2 separate regions of the Homo sapiens genome follow, and region 1 is linked to region 2. The links come from fine-mapping of genetic effects on gene expression. A gene starts in region 2. The other region holds a variant in brackets. All regions are shown on one strand. Distances are from middle to middle. Region 1 overlaps TEDC1 (tubulin epsilon and delta complex 1). Region 2 holds the start of TMEM121 (transmembrane protein 121).

What was found. PIP is the estimated chance that this variant, and not a neighbour inherited with it, causes the effect.
Region 1: its variant is fine-mapped to the expression of TMEM121 in spinal cord (GTEx, PIP 0.94).

Annotation. Positions count from the first base shown.
Region 1 is chr14:105,495,841-105,504,152 of GRCh38, forward strand. TEDC1 (tubulin epsilon and delta complex 1) reads left to right here. Exons shown (of 9, transcript NM_001367178.1): 6 at 40-246; 7 at 1,517-1,603; 8 at 1,958-2,137; 9 at 2,777-3,408. The coding sequence ends at 3,106. Among named protein-coding and RNA genes, the nearest start is that of TEDC1, 8.8 kb to the left of the region's middle. RefSeq lists a silencer at 2,972-3,266. The variant A/T (reference allele first, on the strand shown) is at 3,652.
Region 2 is chr14:105,523,377-105,531,688 of GRCh38, forward strand. It overlaps TMEM121 (transmembrane protein 121), which reads left to right and starts at 3,207. Exons shown (of 2, transcript NM_025268.4): 1 at 3,207-3,277; 2 at 5,346-6,822. The coding sequence starts at 5,459. The coding sequence ends at 6,418. RefSeq lists a silencer at 4,865-5,074.

The DNA.
Region 1 (8,312 bases), 28 kb before region 2:
GGCCAGGTGGACTGGGGCCATGGCTGGCTTCCTTCCAAGGTTTCTGGAGCGGGAGCTGCCCAAAACCTGGACCTGGCCTACCCAAAGTGCCTGCACTCCTTCTGCACTCCTGGGATGGGTCCCAGAACCTTCTGGAATGATCTGTGGCTGGTATGTGAGCAGCCAGGTCTGCTGCCGGGTGACTGGGCAGCACCCTTGGATCCTGGTGGGGCCTCAGCCTGCAGCCTGCTCTCCCCTTTTAGGGCGGTAAGTCGGGGAGGCTGGCAGGGAAGTGGAGACCGCAGGACTTGGGGGTGGGTGGGAGGGGGTGGCGAGGGGGTGTGTTTGCTCCTCCTCTCCTGCCTGCTCCCACCCCTGGCCCTTACCTTCTTGGGAACTGTGGTGATTGCCTTCTGTCAGGTGTGTTGAAGCGGCCGTACCCATGGTGGAGGCCTTTGCTCTTCTTGTGGCGTGCTGGGGTGGGCAGGTGGGCTGCAGCCCCGGCACCAGCCTGCTCCAGCTCCCACACCGCCCACAGACCTCCCTGTCCTCATATTCTCTGACCGCAGGCCTGCCTGCCTCTGCTCTGCTCCGCCCCAGAGGGGCTGGGTTGGACCTGGTGTTCAAGGCCATTCCTATCTGCCCCCCAGCCCACTGCTGGAGCCCCAGGCCCCTGCAGCCTGCTCCACACTCTGGGTTCCCGGGGGAAGCAGGGGTAGAGTGGGGCAGGATTCAGGTGTAGAGGGCCTGTCCCCAGCAGGGGTCCCCTTGCCCCGGGCCCAGGGTCACTGGTACAGATAGCCCATGAGCGAACCTGGGAGGCCTTCCGTGTGTGGGCAGAGCAGCTGCTGTGTCCTGGCCATTCTCCAGCCGCCTGTCTGTGGGCACTGTGGGCAGGTACCTTTGTGCAGGGCCATGGGGCAGGCAGGGCGGGGTCTCCTGGCCCTGCCTGACCCTTCACTTGGGAATGTCAAGTGTGGCTCAGCTCTGCCTTCTCTGCCACCTGGGTCACTAGGCAGACTCCTCACTGCCTTAGGGGGTCCCTGAAGTTACAGGGGATGGGTTTTCCCTCCCCCAGAGCCTGGCTTGCTCCTTCGTTTGGGGCCTCCCCGTCCGCCTGCAGTCCCCGGATACAGCCCGCATTCAGTGAGGGCTGTGGGGCAGAGGTCTAGGCTTGAGAGGCACCTGGACCTGTCCCTGACCTTGTTGGACTGGCAGTGGGGCTGGTGTGGGGGACAGCGGATGTCCTCAGAGCCGGGGGGCAGCTCTTGCCTGGCAGGCAGGGCCTGGCCGTGCACTGGTTGGGGGCTGCCCTGCACTGCAGAAAGGACAGGTGGGCTGTGGCGTCCGCACCACACCAGGGTGCCCTGCTCATCGCTCTGGCCAGAGAACCTGGGCGCAGGCAGGGGAGGGCTGCAGGGGCGGGGCGTGAGCTAGGCGTTGGGCCGGGTGTCGGCGCTGGGTCCAGCTGTCCATCCGACTGTCTGTCCATGGGGTCCCGTGTGAGGTTCTAGGCCAGCTGCCGTTTGCCTTCCAGCTGCTGCGGACTCTGGAGCGTGAGAACCAGCGCCTGGAGGCTGTCCTGGCGTGGCGGCGCTCTGAGCTGGTCTTCTGGCGGTGGATGGTGAGGAAGCCCGCGCATCCCTCTCCCGGCATCCCTTCCCACAGCAGCCCCCAGGTGGGGCATTCGGGATCTTCCTGTTTTCCAGACAGGAAGAGGGGCTTTTAGGGAGGCCACAGACCTAGTGTAGGCTCTTTCTAGGACTTCCACTCGCCTTCTGGGGAGGCTCACTGCTGCCCCCGCCCTCAGCTCCATGGCCTTCTAGAGTGTGGCCTTTGTGCCTCCCTGGACGTCACAGTTGCTGAGATGGTGGCATCCAGCCCGCTGTGGGACCTGGGGGACTACCACTGCCCTCTTTGCCCTCTGTCCCTCTGTCCCCTTGGCTTGGTGCACGCTGTCTCACTTGGGTCTCTGTAGGACACGGTCCTGGGCACCTGTGCCCCGGAGGTGCCTGCTGCAGCCTCACAGCCCACCTTCCTGCCCTGGGTCCCCGAGCGCGGGGGTGGCGAGTTGGACCTGGTAGTGCGGGAGCTGCAGGCACTGGAGGAGGAGCTGCGGGAGGCTGCGGAGCGCAGGCGGGCGGCCTGGGAGGCCAAGGTGAGTGCCAGCCTCGCTCTGGGCACCAGCCCAGCCCCACCTTCGGGGGATGGCTGACCTGAGGGCACTTTGGACTTGCTGAATCCTACAGTTGCATTTGTCAAGCATGGCAGGGGACACACTTAGAGGCACGTACCCTGAGGGAGCGGGAGGGCACCTGGTGAGGAGCCGCAGCTGCTGCGAGACAGCCCCCGCCCCTCCTGCGGGAGGTCTGTTGTCTGATTCTTTGCATGAGGGAGGGAAGCCCGTGCTGTGTGGGCCCTGCTGCTCCCATGCGTCCGCCACACATGCATCACACGGTAGTAGTCACTCCTCCACACCTGCCTGGGACCCGTCTAACCTCCTGGTGGCCACCTGGGCCTCCACCCTAGACTCAGAGCTGCCCGCTTAACCTGCGCAGGTTCATGGCTGTGAACACGGGGCTGTGTTGGCTCCATCTATTTTCTTTTTCTGAAGAGTTTTAACTTAAATTGCAGGCATGATTTTCCCCTTAAAATTTTCAGTAAGCCTCTCTGAAGAGCATGGGCGTTTCCCGCATGCCTGCAGCGCCTGCACCTGAGTCTGGGCTCAGGGAATGCTCAGGGAGCCTGAGGCCAGTGTCCTGGGGGGACAGAGCCATTGCCATTGTGTCCCACGCAGGCTGGAGGCTGTGGACGGGGGCCAGAGTGGAGTGCCGCGCGGCGGGCCTCTCGGGAGGCTGTGGAAAAGGAGCTGGGAGCTCTACAGCAGTGCTGGGAGCGAGACGGTGGCCCGGCCCAGCCCCATGGGCCACACCGGCTGGTGAGACGAGAGGATGGGGCAGCAGGGGACCGGGACCTGCGGGCAGCTGTGGTGATCAGGACGCTGAGGAGCCAGGAGGCCTGCCTGGAGGCGGTGCTACGTCGACTACAGGGACAGTGTCGGCAGGAACTGGCCAGGCTGGTGGGAGCCCGCCCTGGTCTCATCTGGATCCCGCCACCTGGACGCTGAGGGCCTGTCGACGGGCCCTCGTGTGGGAAGCCTGCCCTGGCCCAGCCTGGCTGGGTCTTGGAGGAGCAGATTCCAAGGCCAGGTGGCCGCAGGGACGATGCAGATGCAGAGCCCACGTCACATGCTCGCTCCAGGGGTGGGGCTGGGCTGACTCTGGCCGGATCCCAGGCCTGTGGCTAGCAGCACTGGGGACAGGAATGGCTGGTCCCTTGAGGAGGTCGTGACAGGCTCAGCCTGGTGGTCTGGAGGGGACTCGGAAATAAATTGTAGCAGCTTTCCTGCCGCTGGCCCTCCCCCTGCCACCCTGTCGGGTTTCCCTGTTTGGGGGTGGGAGCGTGGAGGAGCCCCTGGGCAGTGGTGGCCAGTGTAGGGCTGGCCAGGTGCTGGAGGACATGCATACCCCAGCACTGGTGAGTGGCAGGACCACGGGGAGGTGGCACAGGCCTCCCTGGAGCGGGATTATCTCGGCCCCGCCCCCCTTCATTTGGGCTCCCGCTGTGGGCCTGGCCCTGGGCTGTGAGCACAGCTGCCCCCACCTCCGGCCA[A/T]GGCTGTGCCTGGTGGGTGCGCCGGATGGGAGCCCGGGGCTCTGCTCCTTCCCGGGAGGTGGTGCTCCGGGTGGGGAGGCACAGCATGGACAGAGGGGCTTTGTTCCAGAGGCTGCTCAGCAAGCTCAGCTCATCCCTGACAAAGAGCCATCTGTGTCCGGGGGACGTGCCTCAGCCTGGCGGAAGGAGGGTCGGCCTCATGGCACCCCCCCCGCCCCCCACCAGCAGACACAGGTGGCCCTGAGGCCTCCAGCCCTGCCTGCCTTGCCGGGCTCCCCTCTCTTCTGGGGCTGTCGGACTCTGACCTGAGGTGGGCAGACGATGGGGCTTGTGGGGCCACCTCCAGGCTCCTGCCGGCCCTGCCCCGAGGCCACGTCCATTCCCCCTGCCAGAACATGCTCTCACTGGGGCATGTGCCTGAGTGACAGCACACACCTGGGGCTCCAGCTCCAGTCTCAGCCTGTCTGGGCCTCCTTGGTCCCAGGGGTGGACACGCCTAGACCGCCTGCCTTCCCATTCCGGTGCATGGGACCCAGGAGCACCGGCAAGACCTGGCCGTGGCCAGCAAGGCCTCCCTTTCAGGAGCACCTCTCTGACCCTCTCATGCAGCTGGGCCTCCTGTGGGCCACCAGGATTTGTGCAAATGCTCCCTGGCCTGCGCCACCCTCCGGCCCCTCCGCCAGCTCCTCCTAAGGGCTCCTGCCACCTCCACCTGCTGGTTCCAGCTCTGTTCCAGGCCCTCAGACCTCAACCCTCCTCCACCTGCAGCCTCTGAAAGTCCCCCGTGCTCTCAGCAACCCTCGACTGCCGGACAGGGCTCTTCTTGGGCTGGGAGCAAGTCCACTTGAAGCCCTGCTTTTTATAAACTGCCACAGAACCAGGACTCTCACGGGCCTGGGGGACTTGATTTTTACGAGCACAAAAGCAGGCTTATTGTCATGGAGTTGTCACCTCTCGATGTGATGCGTGAATTCAGGGCAGTCCAAGTCCTGGGTGCGCGTGTGCCCCCATGATGCTGGCGGTGGAGAGGGCCTGAGAGGCCAGGGCCTGCGGGAGGGAAGCCGGCAGGGTGCCCTAGTGCTGCCCGTCATGATGGAGCAGGGATGGGACCCTGGCCTTCAGCTCTAGTTGTTATCACACATGCAGTGGCTCGAGTCGCCTGAAGTCACGCCCTCTTGTTCTGTGGGTCGGGGGTTGCCAGTCCACAGGGTTAAAGCTGGATGGGCAGGCAGGGCTGTGTGGCCCCCAGCTCAGAGCAGGCATGGAGGTCCTCACAACACTGCCTCTCTGACACTCTCCTGCCTCCCTCCCCTGCCTTCAGGAGCCCGAGTCATCCTCAAGACCCCCATCCCCTCTGTCCCCATAGACTTCCTGTCTTAAGGCCAGCTGCAGCTTTTCCCTTCTGTCTTGCGACCTGCCCCAGACCCACGGAACAGCCTGGAGGCCCACGGTGTCGGCCTGGCTGGGGCAGTAGGGCCCTGCACCCTGGACGAGCCAGCATCTGTGTAAGGACAGTGCAGTTTGCTTCCCAGGAAGACAGAGGCGAAGATGGCCTCACAGGAAACAGCAGAGGTCACCTGGCGCGTGAGACCAAGTGCGCTTACTGGAAGGTGCAATAAACTTCAACAAAACTAGAAATTTTTTTTTTTTTAAGACAGAGTCTTGCTCTTGTCACCCAGGCTGGAGTACAGTGGCGCAGTTTCGGCTCACTGCAACCTCCGCCTCCCGGGTTCAAGCGATTCTCCTGCCTCAGCCTTCTGAGTAGCTGGGATTACAGCAGTGCGCCACCATGCCCGGCCAATTTTTGTATTTTTAGTAGAGATGGGGTTTCATCGTATTGGTCAGGCTGGTCTTGAACTCCTGACCTCAGGTGATCCACCCGCCTCGGCCTCCCAAAGTGCTGGGATTACAGGCATGAACCACTGTGCCCGGCCAAAACTAATGTTTATTAAGAGGTGGTGCAGCTGGATGCAGTGGCTCATGCCTGTAATCCCAGCGCTTTGGGAGGCCTGGATGGGAGGATTGCATGAGCCTGGGAGATCAAGACCAGCCTGGGCAACATAGGGAGGCCCCACCACTACAAAAAATAAAAAAAGCAGCTGGGTGTAGTGGCATGTGCCTGTAGTCCCAGCTACATAGAAGGGAGGCCGAGACAGGAGGATCGCTTGAGCCTGGAGACCAAGGCTATGAGGCCAAGTGAGCTATGATCTTGTTACTGCACTCCAGCCTGGGCAACAGAGTGAGACCCTATATGAAAAAGAAAAAACGATTAATGAGATGGAAGTGCAGTGTCTCATACGCTTGCCTATTCTGTTCCGGCTGGCTCAGCCTTCCTGGCCTCTGCTTCCCTTTCTGCACTACTTCAGGGCTCCTTCACCTGGTCCTGGCTGACCCTGCCTTGAGGGATGAGGCTGGTTGGGACTCCGGCCAGGTCAGGATCACAACCTCTGGGGCCTGTGGTGGTCGCACCTCCCCCTGGAGCCCAGGGAATGTGTCCTACGGCCTCTGAAGTCCCGCCTTGGTTGGACAGGAGGGTTTCTCTTTTTTTTTTTTTTTTTTTTGAGACAAGATGTTGCTCTGTCACTCAGTGGCACAGTCAGCTCACTGCAGCCTCCATCTTCCAGGATCAAGTCATCCTCCCACCTCAGCCTCCTGAGTGGCTGGGACTGCAGCCTTGATCTTCCGGGATCAAGTCATCCTCCCACCTCAGCCTCCTGAGTGGCTGGGACTGCAGCCTCGATCTTCCGGGATCAACTAATCCTCCCATCTCAGCCTCCTGAGTGGCTGAGACTACAGGCGCGTGCCACCATGCCCAGCTAATTTTTGTATTTTCATTTTTAGTAGACGCAGGGTTTCACCATGCCGCCCAGGCTGGTCCCAAACTCCTGGGCTCAAGTGATCTGCCTGCCTCTACCTCCCAAAGTGCCGGGATTACAGGCGTAGGCCACCGCTCCTGGCAGGAGAGAAGTGTTTCTGAGTGGTTCCTGTTTATCTCATGGGGACCCTGACCGCTCAGTCCACACTGCCCTTGTCTACCCCATGGCCTTGGGTGTGGTTGTGGCTGGTGGCTCTGAAGTCCTGCGCCTGGGCTCAGCCTCCAGCTGTCTGTCCCTGCGTGTGAGCCTGCATTGGCTCTGCAGCCATCCCTGTCCTCAGAGTGGTCGGAGGGTGTCCTGCCCGGCCTCTCGCTGCCCTGCCTGGCTGTGCTGGGCTGGTCCCTCAGTCATTCTACCTGAAGTCACGTGGTGCCCAATATGTGCCATTCTGAGGGGCCCCATGGCCATGTCCCAGAGGGAAGAGCAAACACCATAGAGGAAAGTGCTCACAGCTGGAGGACATGGGTGCCCGCCGGGGCTCAGCCCCAAGGGGGGCACAAGCTGAGAGTAGGCAGGGCCCAGGCTTCTGCCCCCATCCGCTGGTGGGGAGGTTCTGTGGCTCAGAGGAGGTGGGTTTGGAGGACAGCTGGACTAGGTGGGTTCTGGCCCACTGGGGCACAGGATTGGCCGCTGTCTTGGTTGCGGGTGTGATGTAGGGAGCTGTGGTGGCTGGGCCCATGGTGGTTTGAGAACTGGGCAGGCTGGGGTGGGCACTGCTGCTTGGTAGCCCGGCTCTGACCTGCTCACAATCTTGGCATCTTAGTGGGTGTCAGGTGGGCAGTTGGCTGCGTGAACCTGGAATTTGGGGCTGGAGAATGGAATGTGAGAATGCAGGGTGTGGGTGGGCTCAGCCGGGGTGGGAGGCAGGGCAGGGCAGGGCAGGGCCCCAGGGTGCGGTGGGCCCGGGGCTGGTGAGGGGCCCGGGGCTGGTGAGGGGCCTGGGGCTGGTGAGGGGCCTGGGTCTGAGGCCTGAGCCTGGGCCTGCACAGTGGTAGGAAGCACAGGCAGGGCAGAGGGGATGGCTGGCAAGTGGGGGTGCGGTCAAGTTGGGGGTCTTGGTGGCCAAGTAAAGACAGTGCTTCCGGACGGAGGGGCTTATCACCTGTGCTGCTGAGGGACAGGGCCGGGGGCTGAAGATCACGCTTGGAGTGGGGGCTACACACCTGACAGAGGGGGATGAGGGGGGCCACGGAGGAGGACACCAGGGCTGTGCTCTCACCAGGTCTCCAGGGTCTTGCCATAAACTGCAGCGAAGACATAGGATGCTGGCTGCAGAGGTTTGGGCTGCAGCCTCCTAAATGTGGGGCCTGTATCTTTTTAAAATGAGCCTAGGATTTGTTGTAATCAGGGAGGGTAACACACAGACGCAGGAATGACCGTCTTGTAGGAAGAAAGTTCTTTTATCCACAGAGAGTGGGGGCTGCTCCACGCAGCTGGGTGGTCGGGGCACAGGAATGGGCAAGACGTCAGCATCAAAACTACAGAAAAAGACGCGCTTAGTGAGGTGGTACAACAGCTACCACGACCTCAGCTAATAAAAAAATGTGGGCCTTGAAGTGGGGGACCCATGGCTTGTCACGCTGGTGGGAGGCACCGGGCTTGGGGAGGCACTGGGCTGGAGGGGGCGCCGGGCTGGTGGGGGCGCCAGGCTGGAGAGGACACCCAGCTGGCGGGGGTGCCGGGCTGGTGGGGGATGTTGGGCGGGCAGAGCCCTGGGCTGGTGGGGGCGCTGGGCCGGTTGGGGTATCGGAGGGGACCGCCAGGCTGGAGGGGGGGGCGCCAGGC
Region 2 (8,312 bases):
TTTCAGTATACAAATCCTGTACCAGTCTTGTTAGATTAATACCAAACGAATAAATTTACTGGGGGACCATTTTAAATAGCATTGCTTTTAAAAATTTTGGTTTTCAATTGTTCATTGCTAATATATAGAAACAGGACTGAGTTCTGTGTTTTCATCCTGCAACCTTGCAAAACTCACTTATTAGTATTCTGACTTTTTTGTTGGTAAAATTCTTGGGATTTTCGACATAGACTTTTATGTTATTTATGGATAGGGACATCTTTATTTCTTCCTTTCTAATCTGTATGCCTTTTATTTTTCTGGTTTTATTGCATGGGTTAGGACTGCCAGTACACTGTGGAACAGGAGTGAATAGAGTGGACATCTTTACCTTGTTCCTGATCTTAGGGCTCAGCATTTAGTCCTTCATTATTAAGTATCACATTAGATGCAGAGGTTTTTTTTTTTTTTTTTTTTCTTTTTTGGACAGGGTCTTCCTCTGTTGCCCACACTGGAGTGCAGTGGTGCGATCTTAGTTCACTGCAACCTCTGCCTCCCAAGTTCAAGCGATTCTCATGCCTCAGCCTCCTGAGTAGCTGGGATTACAGGTGTGTGTCACTGTACCCTGCTAATGTGTGTGTGTGTGTGTGTGTGTTTTAAGTAGAGATGGTGTTTCGCCATGTTGCCCAGGCTGGCATAGAACTCCTGAGCTCAGGTGATCTGCCTGCCTTGGCCTCCCAAAGTGCTGGGATTACAGGCGTGAGCCACCACATCCGGCCAGATTGTTTTGTATTTTTTGTAGAGACAGGGTTTCACCATGTTTCCCAGGCTGGTCTTGAACTCAAGCTCAAGCAATCCGCCCACTTTGGCCTCCCAAAATGCTGGTATTAGAGGCATGAGCCACAGTGCCTGGCCTAATTTTTTTTTTAATTAAAAATAACAGATATGGAATCTCTCCATGTTGCCCGGGCTGGTCTTGAACTCCTGGCCTCCCAAAATGTTGAGATTGCAGGGGTGAGCCACCATGCCTGGCCTGTTGTTTTTGTTGTTGCTTTTTGTAGATTCCTTTTATGAGATTAAGCATGTTCCCTTTGCTTTCTAGTTTGCTGAGAGTGTTTATCAGGGATGAGTGTTGAATTCCGTCAAATACTTTCTTTGAATTGATTGAGATGATCACATGGTTTTCTTCTTGAGACTAATATGGTGGATCACATCGATTTATTTTCACATGTTGAACCAGCCTTGCCTTTCTGGGATAGCCTCCATTTGGTTGGGGTATTTGTGTGTGTGTGTTTTTAATGCTGCTTGATTCTATTTGCTGATAATTAGTTGAGGGTTTTTGTGTCATGTTGGCATTGGCGGCTGTTGATTGTCTTTTCTCTTGCAGGTTGGATTTCCTGATTCTTCACATGCAGAGTAATTTTAGATTGTCTCCTGCACATTTAGACATTATGTTATGAGACTGGTCTTATTTAAATCCCATTGAGAATGTTGGCATTTTGTTTTATCATGCAATCAACCTAGTTGGTTTCAGGCCACAAGTTCAAATAGGCTCCTGTGGGTCCTGCCTTCCATGTCGGTTTTGTTTTCAAAGCCTTTGCAGTGGGACTCAGATCTGTCCTTCGTATGCACTGCCCAGTGGCCAGTGTGGGACGTGGGCAGTGGGCTGTCCTTTTGTTCAGTTCTCAGCCTTTGGGATGTGAATGAGGGTTTAGACTTGTACATCATGTATGGCTTGCACAACTTCCTGGGGTTGCTTTTTTTTTTTTTTTTTTTTTGAGACAGAGTCTCACTCTGTTGCCCAGGCTGGAGTGCAGTGGCAAGATCTCGGCTCACTGCAACCTCCATCTCCCGGACTCAAGCAATTCTCCTGCTTCAGCCTCCCGAGTAGCTGGGATTACAGGTGTGTGCCACCACGCCCGGCTAATTTTTATATTTTTAGTAGAGATGGGGGTTTCACCATGTTGGCCAGGCTGGTCTCGAACTCCCGACCTCAGGTAATCCGCCCACATCGGCCTCCCAAAGTGCTGGAATTACAGGTGTGAGCCACCACGCCCAGCCCATGGATTGCTTTCTACTGCTTCTCCCTGCCCACCATCTCTCCAGCGACAGGGGACCACATCTCCTGGGGCTGGAAAGGAAGGCTCTTCTGCCTCAGCGTTTTAGGTGCTTGTAAACCCTATGCCTTGGTCATGGCTTTGGTGGGATACCTAGGGGCTGGGGCATCAGAGAATGGAGAAGAGTAAAAAAACAACCACTACCAAAAAACCCCATCCTCCCAAACCCTAACATCCCCCCGGGCATTCTCCTGCACCCTGGGAGCATTAGGCGACCTTTTTCTTTCCTCCCCTTGTGCCAGGACTAGAGAACTTCTGGAGCTCTCTGTCCTCTTCTGGCTTTCAGGCCGTGTTGAGTCCAGGCCCGGGGATACGGGAAGAGAATCTGGAAGTTCACTACCAGTTGGGTGGTGCCTCAAATTCTGGTCTTTCCACCAAATCTGGTGTCCCTTTACCTCTCTGACCCTCAGTCTCCTCCTATGTCAGAGGGAAGTCACAGCAGTTCTGGGAAGGAGGGCAGGCAGGCAGAAGGTGCCCTCGGGTTCTTCTCTGGCTCACACGGGATGGACAGGATGTGGGGGGAGGGGCTTAGTGCCACCTCAGTGACAAAATGAAGCCCAAGTCCCCAAACCCTAGCTTGCCTCCTGGACGGGCTGGAGAAGAAGGTGGGGGCCGCTCATCATTCCTTTCCTCTGCCCTGAGAAGAAACCTGGGAAGGCTGGGTTTCTCCCCAAAGAGGACAGAGGGTGGCGCGGAGGGCCCCGGCGGCCAGGCCAGCCCCGCGCCTACATCCCTGTCAGCTCCTGGGCCGGTGGGCGCCTGTCCGGCTGAGTGGGGTCGCTCTAGGGGGCGGCAGCGGAGTTTCAGGGCGCGGGGGGCACTGGGCGGGACCCTGGGATTCTGGGCGGTGGGTGAGGAGGGTGGAGACGGGACTCCGCGCCTGGGGGTGCGCGAGGGCGCCCCGCTCCCCAGAGCCACCAGTCCTGCGCGCCGCCGCGCGGTGCTGTCGCCGTGGCAACCGGCGCTGCGGAGGGGGCGGGGCACCGGCACCCCCGCGCTCCCAGGTCCCCAGGTCCGGCGGGGCTCGCGGGCCGAGGGGCGCGGGGCGGGGCCTCTGGGTCGGGGGCGGTGCCGCGCGGGCGGGGGAGGGGCGCGGCGGGAGGAGCCGGCGCGGCCCCGGCAGTGGCGGCAGAGGCTGGGCGGGCGGGCCCGGGAGCGGCGCAGCATCTGCGGGCGGCGGGGTAGGCGCGGGCGCGGGCGGGACTGGCTGGGTGCGCGGCTGCGTCCGCGGAGGGGGCGGCGGGCCTGGGCGACCCTGCACCTCTGGGCCGTGGGGACTGTGGGGTGGGGCGGGGGCCGATGCGGCAGGGGTGAGGCCTGGGGCCGGCGGGGTGACGGGGACCCGGCCCTGCGTGGGGAAGCCTCGGGGGGACAAGCAGAGACGCAGCCTGCTGGGAGCGGCCCAAGCTCTGCACCGGCCCGCGGCGGGAGCACAGCAGCCCCCTCCCGCCCCTCCTCCCGGGGGCTCCGAGGGGTGGTTATGGGGCGAGGGTCCTTGCGGGGCCCGGGCAGTGAAGGGCCTGGAGGCCCCAGAGTCTGTGCCAGGTCTGAGCCGCGGGGCGTGGGGGGAGGAGGGGCCTCGGCCGGGGCCCAGGAGACCCAGGACAGGTGGGCCTGGGGCCAGGTCCCTACGGAGAGGTGGCCGGGCCGGGCTCTGGCTTGCCGGGGTAGGGGCTCCGCTAGGGGCTGGAGTCCGTCCCTTCGCCAGCGCAGAGCCCCTCGGCCCGCATCTGCCAAGTGACTGAGGATCGAGCGACAGCGTAGTGGGGCGGAGGGGCTGGAGGCACGGCCGGAAAGGGTGAGCGGCGCCGTGGCTCCCCCGCTATTTATTTGGCCCCGCCACGCGCGGAGAGGGAGGAAATTCTCAGGCTGCGGCTGCAGCTAGGGGAGGCCCAGGTGGGCCTGGAATGGGCCCAGAGAGGGCTTCCTGGGTCAGACGTGTAGATCCAGTGGACGTGAAAACCGGGTGAGTGTCCCGGTGGGACCCAGAGCGCGGGGAGGCTTGGAGGCAGGGGCATGGGCTGAGGACCCTCAAGGCACCCTCCTCGCGACCTGTCAGAGCTCCGAGGGGTGGGGGTGTCCTGTGTGTGGCTGTGGGGATCCTGGGCGGCGGGTGCTGGGTGGGGGCAGGGGTGGGAGTGCAGAGTTCAACGCTTTCCCGGATCGGTGGGGCCTGCGGTGTCACCAGGGCAGTCCGAGCGCCCGACTGTCACGGGGACATTAAATTTTATGCCTTTGTCTAGACACGGCAGTAAACGGAGCCCCAGGCCTGGGGCTGTGGAGGGGGTGAGGGGCTGGCTGGGAGTAAGCCTGTCAGTGACTTTGGGGTGGGTGCGGGTGTGCGGGCCTCCATTGTCACCCAGGTGTGCACAGGCCCAGGTGCGGGGACTCCGACAGCACGGCCATGAGGACCAGTGCCAGGTGTGTGACAGAGGTGCAGGGGCCTGTGGAAGCCCGACGGGCCTTGGTGGACGGGCTTCCCGAGATTCGAGGGCAGCCACAGGCATCGCCCTGGCGCAGAGGAGCAAAGCAGGGTGGCTCTGCCGGGGCAGAGGGTGGGGGACAACACCTCGCCAAGGCAATGCGGAGCCATGGGGAGCAGGGCAGGCAGTGGCCACGCGCCCAGGATGGTGGACAGGAGGGGAGACCGAGCCTGCCCGTGCAGGGAGGAGGGGCGTGGGGGCTGCCGGGCAGGGGCGGGGAGGCTCGGAGAGGCTTGTGGGACGGATGCATCGGGACCTGGGTGGCTCTCGGTCCGGGATCAGAAAGCCTGGGAGGGCCGAGGCCTCCTTGGGTACTCCAAGAGCGGAGGGGCAGGCCCGCCTCCCTGCCCAGTGCGGCGGCGGGGAGAGGGTATTCCCGGAACTCCGCGGAAACGGCCTGAGGCCAGCAGCGCGGGCGTGGGGTCCGGGCCGCCGGAGCCAGGAGGGAGGGCGGCGCGGGCCCAGCAGTGACAAACCCCCCCGGGCTCCGGGAACGAGCTCGGCGGGCAGAAAACGCGTCCGTTCCGTTTCCTTCCTGGCGGCGGGAACGAGGCCCGGGTGCTCTGGCGAGGCAGCAGCGCCCTCTGGAGGCCTCGCTGTGGTTCGCGGCCGCCGGTTCGCGCATGGGCGCAGGCGTGCGCGATGCCTCGGGGCCCCGGCGCGGAGACCGCGCCTGGTGGGAAGCACGCGGGGTGCGGGGGGCGGGGGGTGTTGGGGGAGGCCGCTCCAGCCCGCACCCTGATCTTGTCTCCTCCGGTCTCCCCAGGTTTCGAGCTCGCCGGGCCGTGTCGCGCCATGCCCGCTGGCTGAGCGCCGCAGGGCCTCGTCCCGCCAGGCGTGGGGGCCGCGCGCGCCCAGGCCGGGGCCCGGCGGCCGACCATGGTGCTGCCGCCCCCGGACCGGCGCCACGTGTGCCTGACCACGCTGGTGATCATGGGCAGCATGGCCGTCATGGACGCGTACCTGGTGGAGCAGAACCAGGGCCCGCGCAAGATCGGCGTGTGCATCATCGTGCTGGTGGGCGACGTGTGCTTCCTGCTGGTGCTGCGCTACGTGGCCGTGTGGGTGGGCGCCGAGGTGCGCACGGCCAAGCGCGGCTACGCCATGATCCTGTGGTTCCTTTACATCTTCGTGCTGGAGATCAAGCTCTACTTCATCTTCCAGAACTACAAGGCGGCGCGGCGCGGCGCGGCGGACCCCGTGGCGCGCAAGGCGCTGACGCTGCTGCTGTCTGTGTGTGTGCCCGGCCTGTTCCTGCTGCTCGTGGCGCTGGACCGCATGGAGTACGTGCGCACCTTCCGCAAGCGCGAGGACCTGCGCGGCCGCCTGTTTTGGGTGGCGCTGGACCTGCTGGACCTGCTGGACATGCAGGCCAGCCTGTGGGAGCCGCCGCGCTCCGGGCTGCCGCTGTGGGCCGAGGGCCTCACCTTCTTCTACTGCTACATGCTGCTGCTGGTGCTGCCGTGCGTGGCGCTCAGCGAGGTCAGCATGCAGGGCGAGCACATAGCGCCGCAGAAGATGATGCTGTACCCGGTGCTCAGCCTCGCCACCGTCAATGTGGTGGCCGTGCTGGCGCGCGCCGCCAACATGGCGCTGTTCCGGGACAGCCGTGTCTCGGCCATCTTCGTCGGCAAAAACGTGGTGGCGCTCGCCACCAAGGCCTGCACCTTCCTGGAGTACCGCCGCCAGGTGCGCGACTTCCCGCCGCCTGCGCTATCACTGGAGCTGCAGCCGCCACCCCCGCAGCGCAACTCGGTGCCGCCGCCGCCGCCGCCGCTGCACGGCCCGCCTGGGCGCCCCCACATGTCCTCGCCCACGCGTGACCCCCTGGACACGTGACAGGGCCCGCGCGGCCCCCGACACGCCCCTGGGGCGCAGAGACACCGGGTTGGCTTGGGGCGCGCGGTTTGCATGGGATGGGGTGGGGGCGGGCTCCCCTAGGGACAGGTGCCTCGAGTGCCCGTGCCTGGGGTCCCGCGGCCGCTTCTTCATCTCAGGAATCTCTCGGACCGCGGATCCTCAGCCCCCGCTCCACCAGCCCGCCCCAGCGCGTGGGTCTGTTTGGGAGGCCTGGGCCGGAGCAGAGCAGAGGTGATCCGGCCCCTGCCTGCTGGGCCGCCCGGGTTGGAAGGGAGGGCAGTGTGGGCGGAGATCTGCTCCTTCGGTGGGGGCCTCTGGCTCAGATTTGGGGCCAAGGAGGCCTCTGTCATTTTAAAGACTCGTGTTTACAGTTTTGTATCCAAGGCCGCACTGCTTTGCCTGTTCCTGTGTCCCTGTGTTTACCAGCCAGGCTGGGAGGCGGGGAGCCAGGAGGGGTGTGTGGAGGGCGGGGGAGATGGTGGCGTCCAAGTGCCGGATGCTGGTGAGGCTGGGCCGCTCCACTTCCTCCGGGGCTCTCAGGAGCTCCTGGGGGCCACTGCCGCTCTGTCCCAGGGACAGCTCCTCCACTCCAGCTTCGGTGTTCCCAATTATCTTCCTGGGATACCTTGACCCCCATCTTCCCCCAGCACCGTAGGTGTCCTGGCCCCTGCTCCCCTCAACCTCAGGCATGACAGTGTCTCCCACATCCCTGGTTTCCTTCTCCCCCACCGTGGAACCTACCTTCCCTGTGGGCTCCTCCAGCCCAGGACAGCCACAGCCAGATGGAATCAGGGTGTTCCCAAGTTGATGTGGCAGCCCCAGGTCGCAGCCCCAGGAGCAGCACGGAGCCTGGCCCCACCTTACCATCCTGGCCTTGCCCCAGCACGGGAGCTGGCAGCCCCTGGCACAGGCAGCACCCGCCCTGAAGCCCATCTGCAAGGGGTCTCTCACCTGCCTTCCACCTGGGACCCTGTACCTGTGATGTGGCCCTGGGTATCCACCTGGCCTGGGAAGGTCCGTAGCATCTGGGGAGGGGCCCTTTATGAGGCTGCTAAAAGAATTGTTTGAGGATGCCCGCTCCATGAGCGGGTGATGGTCACACACATCTCATGTGGCACAGTTCACTGCCTGGGCCTTCGCTTCCCGCATTTCCACGGCCCAAAGGTGGCAAGGTTTAGCCAGCCAGGGCTAAAACCATCGAGGGGAGTGGAGCTGGCTGCTCAAGTGGGGTCCTCCCCAAGTGCATTTCCCAACAACTGCAGCAGTTAAGGGCGTGGCTGGTGGCAGCCCCAGCCGCACCCCGACCCCACACAGTCCTCATACCCCAGCTCCAGGCCACCTGGGGTCTGGCCTTTGAAAGTCGCCTGCCTTCCAGGCAGCTGGCCTCGGGACCACTGTCCTCAGGGTCCCGGGCAGGGGGACTACCTCGCTGTCCAGGTCAGACGTGGCCGGCGCTCTGCCCACCTCTAAAACCGTGCCTTGGCCCCGGCCTCCGATCATATCCCCAGCAGCCCCTCCAAGCGCCGAGCGCCGTGGGTGGGCACGGGGCGCTGGCCTGGGTAGGAGGTCAGAGGCGCCCTGCTCTGGGCTGTGCCCAGGCCACTAATGATCGTGTTGGGAAGTGGAAGGTCTGCAGGATCAAGGGGGCTGGGGGGCCGGGGAGGGGCGGTGATGAGCAGCCGTGGAAAGGCCCCAGGCCTGGCATGGAGAGAGAAGAGGGGCTGTGGGAGTTGCGTGGGCCAGTGGGAGGACCTGGGCCTTCTTGGGAGGGAGTGGTCTGGAGTGGGGGGTAGTGGGTGAGGGGCGAGCTTCATTCTGCCTGTCTGGGCTGGAGCCTGTTTCCTCCCCTGGCTGAAGCCAGTGCCGGCCCCAT